Linked DNA regions of Homo sapiens: regions 2, 3 and 4 are each linked to region 1. The links come from fine-mapping of genetic effects on gene expression. A gene starts in region 1. Each other region holds a variant in brackets. All regions are shown on one strand. Distances are between the middles of the regions. Region 1 holds the start of SATB1 (SATB homeobox 1). Region 2 overlaps BALR6 (B-cell acute lymphoblastic leukemia associated long RNA 6). Region 3 overlaps BALR6 (B-cell acute lymphoblastic leukemia associated long RNA 6). Region 4 overlaps BALR6 (B-cell acute lymphoblastic leukemia associated long RNA 6).

Region 1 (2,687 bases):
TTTCTGCTTTACCTTTTGGCTTTTCTTTAGATTTGTAATGTAAACAGTGTGCCTAAGAGTGTATTGGTGGCTTTACAGAGCTTAATTTGCAAATTTCCCTTTTATCTCAGTACTTGTGCTAACTTGTTGCTTTTTTATGTGTAACAAAATGTTTATCTGACTGATTTTTCTCTTTTCCCTACCAGCAAATTCTGAAAAATAATTCTTGTTTTTTGTTAATGATTAACTGCCTTCAGGGTGCTAAAATGGTAGAACTAAAACCTAAGCGATAAATGAGGCATTTCTATTTTGGGTTACATTGTAATATTCTTTATTTTTACATGAACTATATTTAATAGATTGTCTAAATAATAGGATCATACTTATGTGGTAATGACCATTTATCTAACTGGGTAACCTACCCTAGATTACAGCAGAAGTGTTTATTGCTACAACAGATGTATTTACCAACCCAAACTTTCCTCTTTTGCCTAGCGTAAATTATTTGAAGAATGATGGCATCTTTTCCTTTATAATAACAAGTCAGGTCTCTTTCAAGTGACCCAAATTTTGTTTAACTCGGCCACGTATTTCTTCTTCCAAAGTATTCTATGGCTCAGAAGTGAGGGCGATTTGAACCAACGTCTGACTAGTACAGAACGCTCTTACTCAGTTCTTTCTAATGTTGGCTCCTCATAGTTTAAGGACCACCCTCCTTAGAGGATAAACATTCCGAGCGTTTCGAGGCTCCTGGCCTTTATTGCTGTACACGTTTCTGCACCCTCCGCGCTTCCCCGGAGAGAACTGCCTTCCGTCTGTACCCCTCCAGCCACTTCCTGATGGCTCCCTACCTCATTCCTCAGCGCCTGTCACCTGCGTACCCGCGCCCTTCTCCCACGGGGCCGGTGCGTCTCCCTGTCCCCCCACCTCGCCTGTCCCTCTGCGACGCTCCAGGCGTACTCCTTTTTGTGGCTTTTGTGGCGTGTGGGTGGTTGGTTAGTTTTCTCCCCTGGCCCTCGCCCCCTCCTCCCCGTCATTTTCCTTCCCCCCGCCCCCCGTGCCCGTCCTGCCCGTCCTGCCCCTCCTCCCTCCCACTCACACACCTGCCCCTGCCGCCCGCGCGCCGCGCGCTCCCCTCCCCGCTCCGGCGGACGCTGCCAGGGAAGCCCCCTCTCCTCCTCCCCTCTGCGCCCTCCCTGGCGCGTCTGGCGGCGGCCGGCGCTAGCCCTCGCACAGCGCCCTGTTATTCTGGGTATTGTGTGTAATAAATGTCGGGCCGCCTCACTCTAATCAAGCTCATTACAAATTCTTGCGCGCCCGGGGCCGGAAATCGTGCGCTCCCCCCATTCCCTCACTCATTCACTAGTTACTTGTCTTTCGGCTTTTTAACTCGCCGCCCCCGCCCCCTCCCCCAATCCCGGCCCTCCAGCCCGGGTTTTAATCCCCATCCCTTTTCCGCCCGCTCCGTGCACCCTGCCCCCCCACGCCGCCTTCCTCCTCGGCTCCGCACCCCCTTCCTCCTCTCCTCCCCCCTCCTCCTCCTCCGCCGCCGCCGCCGCCGCCGCCACTTTCTCGCTCGCTCCCGTTCCCCGGACGCGGCGGATGAGCCGGCCCCGCTGGGGAAGGCTCCGGGCGGCGGCGGGCGGCCGGGAGGAGGCTGCGTGCTCGGGGCTGGGGCTGCGAGCGGGGTGATTTTGTATTAAAATGAGGAGGAGGAAGAAGAGGCACCCACAGCGGCAGCGGCGGCGGCGGCGGCAGCAGCAGCAGGAGCAGCGGCGGAGAGGGCTGCAGCCCGGGCGGACGCGCGGAGCCGAGCGGGGCACGGCGGCGGCAGCGACAGCGGCCGGGATGAGTCAACTAATAATTTAATGGGGGCAGAGACGGCAGCGAGGGGTAGAGCTAGCGAGGGAGAGAGCGAGAGAAGCAGCCCCGTCCGGGGACTCGCGCTCACACTCACGCACACACACAAACACACACACACCTCTCCCTGTGCCACCCAGCAACACCCGGCCTCGTCACAACAACAACAGCCGCGGCCGCCCTCTATCCTGCCCGGGGGCCCAGCCGAAAGCCAGGGCGACTCTAGAGGACGCTGCCCGCCCCCCTCTTTCATTTCGGGAAACTCCTGATCAGTTTTGTCGGGGTTTCTGGGTTTCTTTTCCCCCAAAGTCCTAGTGCCATTGTGGTGCTCGTTGTTTACCTCGGACTCTGGACGAGTGAGAGCTTGGCGACTTTTTGGGGGGAGGGGGCGGGGAGTTTGTCGCTGCCTAGGCGGTGGAGGTGGCTGGGGGTGCCTTCTGATCTTCCTCCTCCTCCCCCTCCCCCCGAACCTCTTCTCTCCTCACTTGCTGGGACCCCAGACGCTCACAGCCCCGCGTCAATGGGCAGGGAGAGGGTCCTTGCGGCTGTTGTCAGCGAGGGCAGAATCAAAAGTGGCATTTTAGTGCCTTTCCGGGGCTTTTCTCGCGACCCCCTGCCCCCCACCCTCGCTGTCCCCCGCTAGATGCCCTCGTTGGGGGTGCGAGGCTGTGGGGAAAAGTTTAAGGTTTGTTAATATTAGTCGCGATTGTTGGCGAGGGGGGTGGGGGTGATTGGAAGGGAGGCGAGGTGGCCTTCCCAATGCGCGTTATTCGGGGTTATTGAAGAATAATATTGCAAGTGACAGCCAGAAGTAGACTTTCTGTCCTCACACCGAAGAACCCGAGTGA
Region 2 (2,687 bases), 160 kb after region 1:
AGGAGTTATGCTAAGGGAGAGAAGATGCAGGAGAGAGTGTCCATGTTAACAAAGAGCAAAGTACCTCAAGGACTCCATAGAGGTGGGACTTTGGAAAAGCAAATGAATTTCTGTTCTTATAGACAGAAAAAAAGGAGAGGATGAAAGCTGAAGGAACCAGGTTGATATGACCTCCAAGTGGAGAAAAAATAAAGGAGTAGAATACCAAATGAAAACCAGAGTTACTAGGAAATCAGAAAAATGGAATGAACAGGTTTAAGAGCATCAGATTTTGGTAGACTGAGAAGTCTTCAAAATTAGGATTCACTTGTCTGGAAGATGGACTTTCCCAATAGCCTTTCCCTTCTTGGCTTCCAAGACACAAAAATGACAACTTCGTTTTTTTTAATTAGTCTTTTTTCATGATCTGTTCTCAAATAGGTTCCATTATAGCAGATCTGGTCTCCCCTTCCTAGATTGCAAATGAGTTTCTGATCCATCATTACACGATGTCTTCCAGTTCATTCTGTCACTCTGAGATTTCCTTAGATAGTCCCAAAACATTGAGTCACAAACTTGTAGATACTCTTACAGTTGGCTAATCAAATGTACTGTGAGTGGAACTTATTCATTGAATTATTAATAGAAAATCTTAGTCTGTTGCTCCTATGAAGATCACTAACAGGACATAGCTAAAAATCAACCAATTCACAGATTGATGTAACAGGTGCTCATATTGGAATGAACTGCTCATCAGAGTTCTCATCTTATTCTCTCTCTCTCTCCATTGTCTGTACCCCACAGAAGGCCTGAGCTGTAAAATGGAAATGATCGTAAGACAAGTTCTCTCCACCATGGCCTCCAAGCACATATACCACTTCATTAATCAGCTGGTATTCCCAAAACCTCCAGGTTGTAAAAGCAGTCTATTTATGAAATATCTGGCTACGGCGTATAATAAACAATGCCAGAGTGAACTGAAAACAGACTAATTTAATAAGCAATTCCTTTCCCCTACACTGTTTAAATTTACATAATCAACTGGCTATAATATTTAGCATACTTTTAATGTTTCTCATTTGTTTACACTACAATTCTGTGCTTCAGACTTCTCCATTCACCAAAATATTGATTGGTCTACTAAGGGTACAGAACAGCAGATATTCCACTGGTAATCATTACGTGAATATGGAGGAAGTGAGAAGTGGAGCTACTGTATTTTTCTTGTTAATTACAAACCTAATATTCTATTAAAATGTATGAGATGACAAAATCTCAACAAACTCTTTAAAGCTATTACTAGCAGATAAAGTATTCTACCAAAGTATTAATATTAGCATCATTAAAATAGTTTTATCAAGTGTGCGTTTATCTCCAGATTGGAAACAATAGCAGCCTGAAGGTAAGAAATGCCCTTGAGTACTGTGGTATGAAAACCAACAGCAG[C/T]TTTAGAGTCACATAAAATCTCCTTGTGGCTTCACAACTAAAGAAAAAAAAATCTTGAAGCCACAGTTATAAGATGTAATAGAGTAAATGAGTCTATTTTTCATCACCTTGGGCTCTGAGAAGAAAACATGGCAGAGTTATATCGATAAGGGAAGAGCTCAGATATTAAAATACATTAACTTTACTTTAATTGATTTAAACAGATCCAGAGCTTTCTTAATGCACATGATGTTATTTCTGCATTAGTGGACAAAATAGATCTGCGTTAGATTGCAAAGCTCCATCTCTGTATCTCTGTCTGGTATGGAGAGAAAAACCTCTCCATTTCTTAATCTCTCTTAAAAAAACAAAACAACACAGGAAACCATACATATTTATTAGCTCTAGTCAAATAATTTCTTTCTTTATCTTCTCCTTGAAATGTCTTCTGGCAACATCAATACAGTGTTCTCCTATAGCTCAGAAAGCTATAATCAGGGAACAATAACAACAGATAGCCAAAGTTTCTTCTATACACCATAAGAATAAAACTTTAATTAGACCCCTCCAAATCTCTAACTGAAATAGTTTATCTCATCAGTTTCTTCCTCTCTGTTATTCTCTTTGTTTCTGTAGCACAGTTTGAAAAATGTCAGATGAATCACTGAAGGGTAGAACCAACTAGAAAGCCTCACCAGACATGACATCCATTCTCGCATTCACAGATGAGGAAACTGAAGCTCAAAGAAGGAAAGTGACATCACAGAACTTGTTTATGACAGAGTCCACTCTAAACTCTTGATCTCCTTTGTGTTATTTGAAGCATTTGTATGGGATCCCAGAGAAAAAGTGAAAAGTATAAGTATAGGCTTCCATTTCAACTCACTCCTTTTAAATTCAGAAAATTTTAATTTTTGGTCAAAAATCTGTAACAATCCCTTATTCTGATATGAGAAGAATGTGAGAAATGTGTAGATGTTTCTCTAGCAGTCAAATTAAATGATGAAGCTTCCTCTTTGTTTTTTGGTTCATAGAAAGTATTTTCTTCTAGAGTCTCTGCAGATTGGAGTACTGCTTTTATTCGTGGGTTTACTGAAGCACCAGTCAGGGCCATAAAAAAAGTTAGAAACCTATGTTGATTCTCAGAAAGGTAAAGTCCAAGGTGATGTAGAAATATGCTGCCACCACCCCCACTTTCAACATCCTACTGCACATACAAGGATCAGCAAATGAAAGAATAATCCATGTTAGCACACTGCGGAAGTCAAAACTCTGTATTTCTT
Region 3 (2,687 bases), 220 kb after region 1:
ATCAAGACTCATCCCAAACATAATTTCCATTTTGAATTTTGATCTTACCTTCCAGAAACGCTAATACTGTCCAGTTTGTCATTTCTCTATGCTCCCACAGCACCAGGTATACACACTTCTATGTCAGCAGTCAGCATATGGATTTATAGTGGGTTTGTTCACTTTTCAATCTCCCATATGAAGCCATAAGCTCTTTGAAGACTAAGACACTGTTTTTCAATGGTCCACTTAAGTCTCCAGGGTCCACTGCTGCAACTAGATCAGCTGTTTTAGCTATTCTGTCTGGTCGTCCAGACCTTGAGTAGTGCTGCTATGAATAAACCCATAATGCTCTGTGCCTGTGTCCAAGTAATGTCACAGCCAAATGGGGGAAGTGAAGAGAAATGCTGTTATCATGTGGTATTCAAGCACTAACTCCTAAAAGGGATGGCTTATTTCTCAGGATAGTAGACACTCATGCTGACTGTGGTAAGACAAAACATACGGAGAAAATAACGTGTTGCTGGAAACCAATGTGATCTAATAATGAAATTTTCCAAGGCATAAATGATTGCTTTTCCAATTTGCCTTTATCCATAACTAGAGTTGTGGGGAAAACATAATTCATGAAGGTGTATTGTCCAAAGAGGTTAAAAAAAGGTTTGTCATATGCCAATGAGGGATTGACATTTGTTTGAATCTGGTGACCTCCAAGAGGAAGCTGCTGTGGGACTGGGCTTTCGATAAATTCTAATTTGGTATCCTAATGGGTAGTTATCACCATTTTCAAAGTGTTTGTTCTTATTGACACGTATTTGCCTTCTTGTTTATACTCTCCTATTTGTATTAGCCTTTTTGCCATTTATCTGTCTGGGTTCTGAGTTTCAATATTCAACCAATTCTACAATAAGCATTTGGTCATGTTTTGACATCTCTGAAATTGGAGTGTGTTAGTACAATTGTTGACATCTTATTGTCATGGGTCAGCCAGGACCATTTGTGACTTTGCCGCTATTGTCTGTGCAAACTTGGTCATTAATTATTGGTGGCCTGACAGACTAACTGTAACCCCTTGCCCCATAGGAGAACTTTTTGTATCCCCCACTGGTGTGAGGGCAGGACAGGGTTTTCTCCACTCTGTATCTTCACTAGAGTGATCTGGATTCTCTATTTCTTTCATCTGTTGTCAGGAAGCTTCTTTGCCAGGGCTACAATGCCTAGTAGTCCAGAAGAGATGTGAGCTGAGGAAAACATGAGGTCCCATCCTGCTCACCCTTATCTCAGTGTAAAGATAGATGTCTTTCCATGCAAAAGGAAGAACAGTCAACCTCAGAGTTCCTCCTCTGTACCACAGAGATTAGGAGCAAACACTTCTGCATTTCACTAGGGTAATGTGTCAGCCTCTCCACATCCTAGCATTACTAGATGTGTTTGGAAGAAAAGAGTGCTAACTCAT[G/T]GTGGCCTCCCAAAAGCCACGTGGTAGCGTCTGTTCTACACTGCCTGCTTCTGCTCTTTACTCTCAGCTCTACCCTGGTATATCTGTCAGTGTTCGTTCAAGAAAATAGACACATGCCTGATATTCAAATGGAGAGGACTTAATAAAAGCAATTGGTTACACAGATGTTGAAGATTAATGGCAAGAAGGAAACCCAGAAGCAATAGTAGCCACAGGAAGCAGCTACAATTCCTAGGTTTGAGGGAACCAAAAGGAAAATTTATGGGCACCAAAACCTAGGAGTCAAGAGGAAGGGCCCCATGTTGCCAGTGCTCAGGGATGGAGGTGCCACACACTGATAATTAGGTCTCTGAGGGGGTCCAGACACAGGGCTGATGATGGTACCTCTAAGGGATGGGTCTGAAAGGGTTTTTAAAAGCTGGAGACTGGAGCCATAGCTGCCCTCTGCTGCTAAAGAGATGTGCCAGGAGCTGCAAACAGGAAGATGTTGTCCAAGGACTCTTTCTCTCATCCTCTCATGTTGCAGTCTCCTGCCAATGCTGCTCAAAGGCAGAATTTAATGGGAATCTATCCAGCAGAGGAATCTGGGAAATGTAGCTTGCAGACTTCTAGTAGAATATAGAGAAAATGTGGGCTTGGGACTCAGAGACAACAAAGAAATAAATGTCACAATAGGCCACTGAGTTCTTTGCAGCTGGTTACTGCCTGGAACTGGAGATTCATTTCCTCCCAGATGTGATGCGTTCACCAGGGGATACACTTCAGAAGTGGGGTGATCTGAGGAAGACCACGTTTCCCCATGTTGCCCCCTCCTGATCATCTTCCATAGCACCATGAGCACAAAATAACATGTACACAACATACTCCACTGATGGGAATTAAAACTACAAGGAAAAGAACTTAAGTTAGGGAGCATAATGTGGCTATTCTTAGTCTAAAATAGGGGTTCTCAACCTTGGTTCTACTGACATTTAGAGGTAGATAATCCTTTGCTGTAAGGGGCTGTCCTAGGCATTGTAATATGCTTAGCAGCATCCCTGGCCTCTACCCACTAGATGCCAGCAGCACCCTGCCCTAAGTTGTAACAATAAAAAATGTCCCCCAACATTGCCAAATAGTTGGAAAGAGGCAAAATCACCCCCAGTTGGTCTAAGAGTAAAGCACAAAAATTTAAACCTTAAGCATTTCCCTGTGGGTATTTTCCAATTCCTAGATTTACTTCTCTTCAAAAAGAGCCCTTCTAATGTCTTTC
Region 4 (2,687 bases), 200 kb after region 1:
TCCTGCCCTGAAGCTGGCATGTGCCCTTTTCAGCTCTGAAAAACCTCAATTTGCATAAAGGTCCTCAGCCATCTGAATTAGCTTTGTTTTTGTGTGGAACTGTAAAGGTTGAGTGGTAAGGGCTTAAAGAATCTCTTAAATAATTAAATGGAGTAAACAAAGTGACATCTTGAAGAGTGAGTTTTTTTTTTCTCCCCTTGGGAGAAAAATAGCAAATTCCTTAAGATAATACATTAGATAGAAAGGGGCAAACATTTTTAATGAATAGAGTAGGGTTTGGAGGAGTGTTGAAGAAGCAATGCAGGTTTTTGGCTAGCTACTTCTGGTGCCAGAGATGGTTTTTGGGGTCTTCTTTATCAATGTGGTGGCAACATCTGTGAAAAGTGAAGATTTAAAAAACAACATTGCAGGCTGTTACAGAGGATACTAAAGATGCATCACTAATGACATAGAAGGGTGTGTGTGTCTACATAGGAGAAAATGGAGTTACCTCTCTCAAAAGTGTTTCATGAAAGAACAAAGATGACTGCAGGACATAAGGGATTTTTTTGAGGTATCATACTGTTCTGCCCACCAGCTGATGATGAAGCTATAGATAATTTTCAAAAAAGATAAAAATTAACAAAAAGTGAAAACAGGAACATTTTCTGATGCTATTGATAACTTAATGAAAATGTAAAGAGACTTATGTGAAACTGAATTTTATTTTCCAAGGGATAAAGGAGAAACGTAGACTTCCAGAGCAGGTTCATTTTTGCTATCGGAAGTATAGCTGAATAAGGCAGCCTCAAATGAAACCTAGAGCCAAAGGTTTTCTTCATTCCCTTCTAGTGTGTCCATAACTCTCCTGGAATCTGTGAGCTTGCAAGACAATCTAGCACACATTTGAGCTTTCAAGATGCATGGCACATCCAGACTCGATGTGGTGTTAGTAGCTCCTGTCATTAATAAATTCCTTTGCACAGTGGCTTCAAACTACCTGTCCACCAATTGCTTTCTCTGTTATTTGGTTCCCCTTATTTCTCGATTTTCTGAATGTCAGAACTTGGCTAAACAAAATGAAATACAACTTTCTACATGTAACCCTTTTACTTCCTCATTTCCACATGGCAACATATTTTCTTACTCCAAACACTGCAGTCCTTAAAATTCTACTCAAAACCTCTTTCTTCTATAAACTTCATTCAGTTTCTTTTCATTTCTTATAGTATCCTTTCAGAATTCATTCATTCATTCATCAAACTTTTTTGGAGCACTTACTATACATAAGGCAAAAAAAAATAGGATCGGAGACTACAGAGATGAACAAGTTGCATTCTCTACTCTCAAAGAATAAATCGTCCAACTGTCTAGA[C/A]GGGCAATAGATTGTGGTAACTGCAGTGAGAGAAATATCTAGGAACAGGGGAGTGCACCTGAGGGGGTGTCAGTAGAGAGACAGGCTAACGCGGAAGTTTCCTGAAAGATACGATGTCTGTGATGAGTCTTAGAAGATGAGTAGAAGTCAGCCAGGCTGGGCATCCCAAGTATGAAGGTTAGTACCAAGCCTGAAAACAGTATACTAGAACTTCTCTTCACATTGACGCTTTTGTTGCCTAAGTGTTCACAATAGTCTGTCTTGGTTCCACCTTCAGGCTGACTTCAGACCATCTGAGGGAGGAATTAAGTGAGATAATGGGTTTATCACAAAGTGGTGGGAGACAGCTTCTAGAATTCTTATTATGATTATTAAACCTGGTTTCTGCTTTATCTCTTATTTTCCTGAAGTACCATTAAAGTGCTCTAAGTACCCAAATCTTGCTATTGGTTTCTTTACTCCTCTCTTGTCACTCTGGTAGCAGGCAGGGCAGACCTCGGCTACCAAAGTGAGAATGAGGACTCAAGGAGGAAGTGAAAGATGGTCACAGAATCAAAAAGCATCCCCAGACTTCCTGTTGGGAGCTCTCTGCTAGTGTCCCCAGGGTGTTGACAGTAACTGTTCTGGGGGATGAGGCGAGGGAGGGGTGCAGTGGGCTGCAGAAAGACACAGCAGCTGGCTTCATTACTACATCCCTAACAAAGGGTCTCTATAAATCAGACAGGAGGGAAGTGTATGTTTGGCAGGGGGAGGGAAGTTGGTGGGTGCTTGCTCTTTGGCAAATGGTTTAGAACTCATTGGGGCTTACAACCATAATCTACTGATTTGGGAGCCATGGACAAAATCTTTTCTTTTCTAAGCGTTATACTAACAGTGAATATAGATTTTGTTTTCTGGTTTAAATGTGAAGCAAAAAGACACATGATATGATTTTTAAGTAATATGTTCTTAAGTCTATTTCGTTTTAAGCAACTCATCTTCACCAAAAGTGCATCATTAAAACTGGTGGTAAATATATGTATACAATTTTTAATATAAATCTGCCTCTCAATCAGTTTCCACATCGCCTGTACATTTATATCAGATCTCTGAAGCCCACTGAACATTAGCAAGAGAAGTGTGAAAAGACAGAAATAGTATCCAGTCCTTGCAGAATGTCTCATTTAGCGGAGTGGGGAAGCTGAGGGGAAGAAATAGTAGTAATATTTTTTGTGTGTGGCCCCATTACTTTTTCAAAGCATTTTCCACCTTTAATTTAGTTGTGACTTCCAGCTGTTTTTGACAGATGGGAACACAAAAACAAGTAGCAGCCAATCAAGTGACACCCAAGCCA

Evidence for each region. PIP is the estimated chance that this variant, and not a neighbour inherited with it, causes the effect.
Region 2: its variant is the best candidate, but not a certain one, in a credible set for the expression of SATB1 in whole blood (INTERVAL, PIP 0.54).
Region 3: its variant is the best candidate, but not a certain one, in a credible set for the expression of SATB1 in whole blood (INTERVAL, PIP 0.86).
Region 4: its variant is the best candidate, but not a certain one, in a credible set for the expression of SATB1 in whole blood (TOPMed, PIP 0.57).

What each region holds. Positions count from the first base shown.
Region 1 is chr3:18,424,198-18,426,884 of GRCh38, reverse strand. SATB1 (SATB homeobox 1) reads left to right here and starts at 1,546. Exons shown (of 11, transcript NM_002971.6): 1 at 1,546-2,687.
Region 2 is chr3:18,268,659-18,271,345 of GRCh38, reverse strand. BALR6 (B-cell acute lymphoblastic leukemia associated long RNA 6) reads right to left here. Exons shown (of 5, transcript NR_161333.1): 5 at 2,424-2,687. Among named protein-coding and RNA genes, the nearest start is that of SATB1, 160 kb to the left of the region's middle. The variant C/T (reference allele first, on the strand shown) is at 1,426.
Region 3 is chr3:18,207,766-18,210,452 of GRCh38, reverse strand. All of the region lies in intron 4 of BALR6 (B-cell acute lymphoblastic leukemia associated long RNA 6), which reads right to left. Among named protein-coding and RNA genes, the nearest start is that of SATB1, 220 kb to the left of the region's middle. The variant G/T (reference allele first, on the strand shown) is at 1,436.
Region 4 is chr3:18,223,007-18,225,693 of GRCh38, reverse strand. All of the region lies in intron 4 of BALR6 (B-cell acute lymphoblastic leukemia associated long RNA 6), which reads right to left. Among named protein-coding and RNA genes, the nearest start is that of SATB1, 200 kb to the left of the region's middle. The variant C/A (reference allele first, on the strand shown) is at 1,355.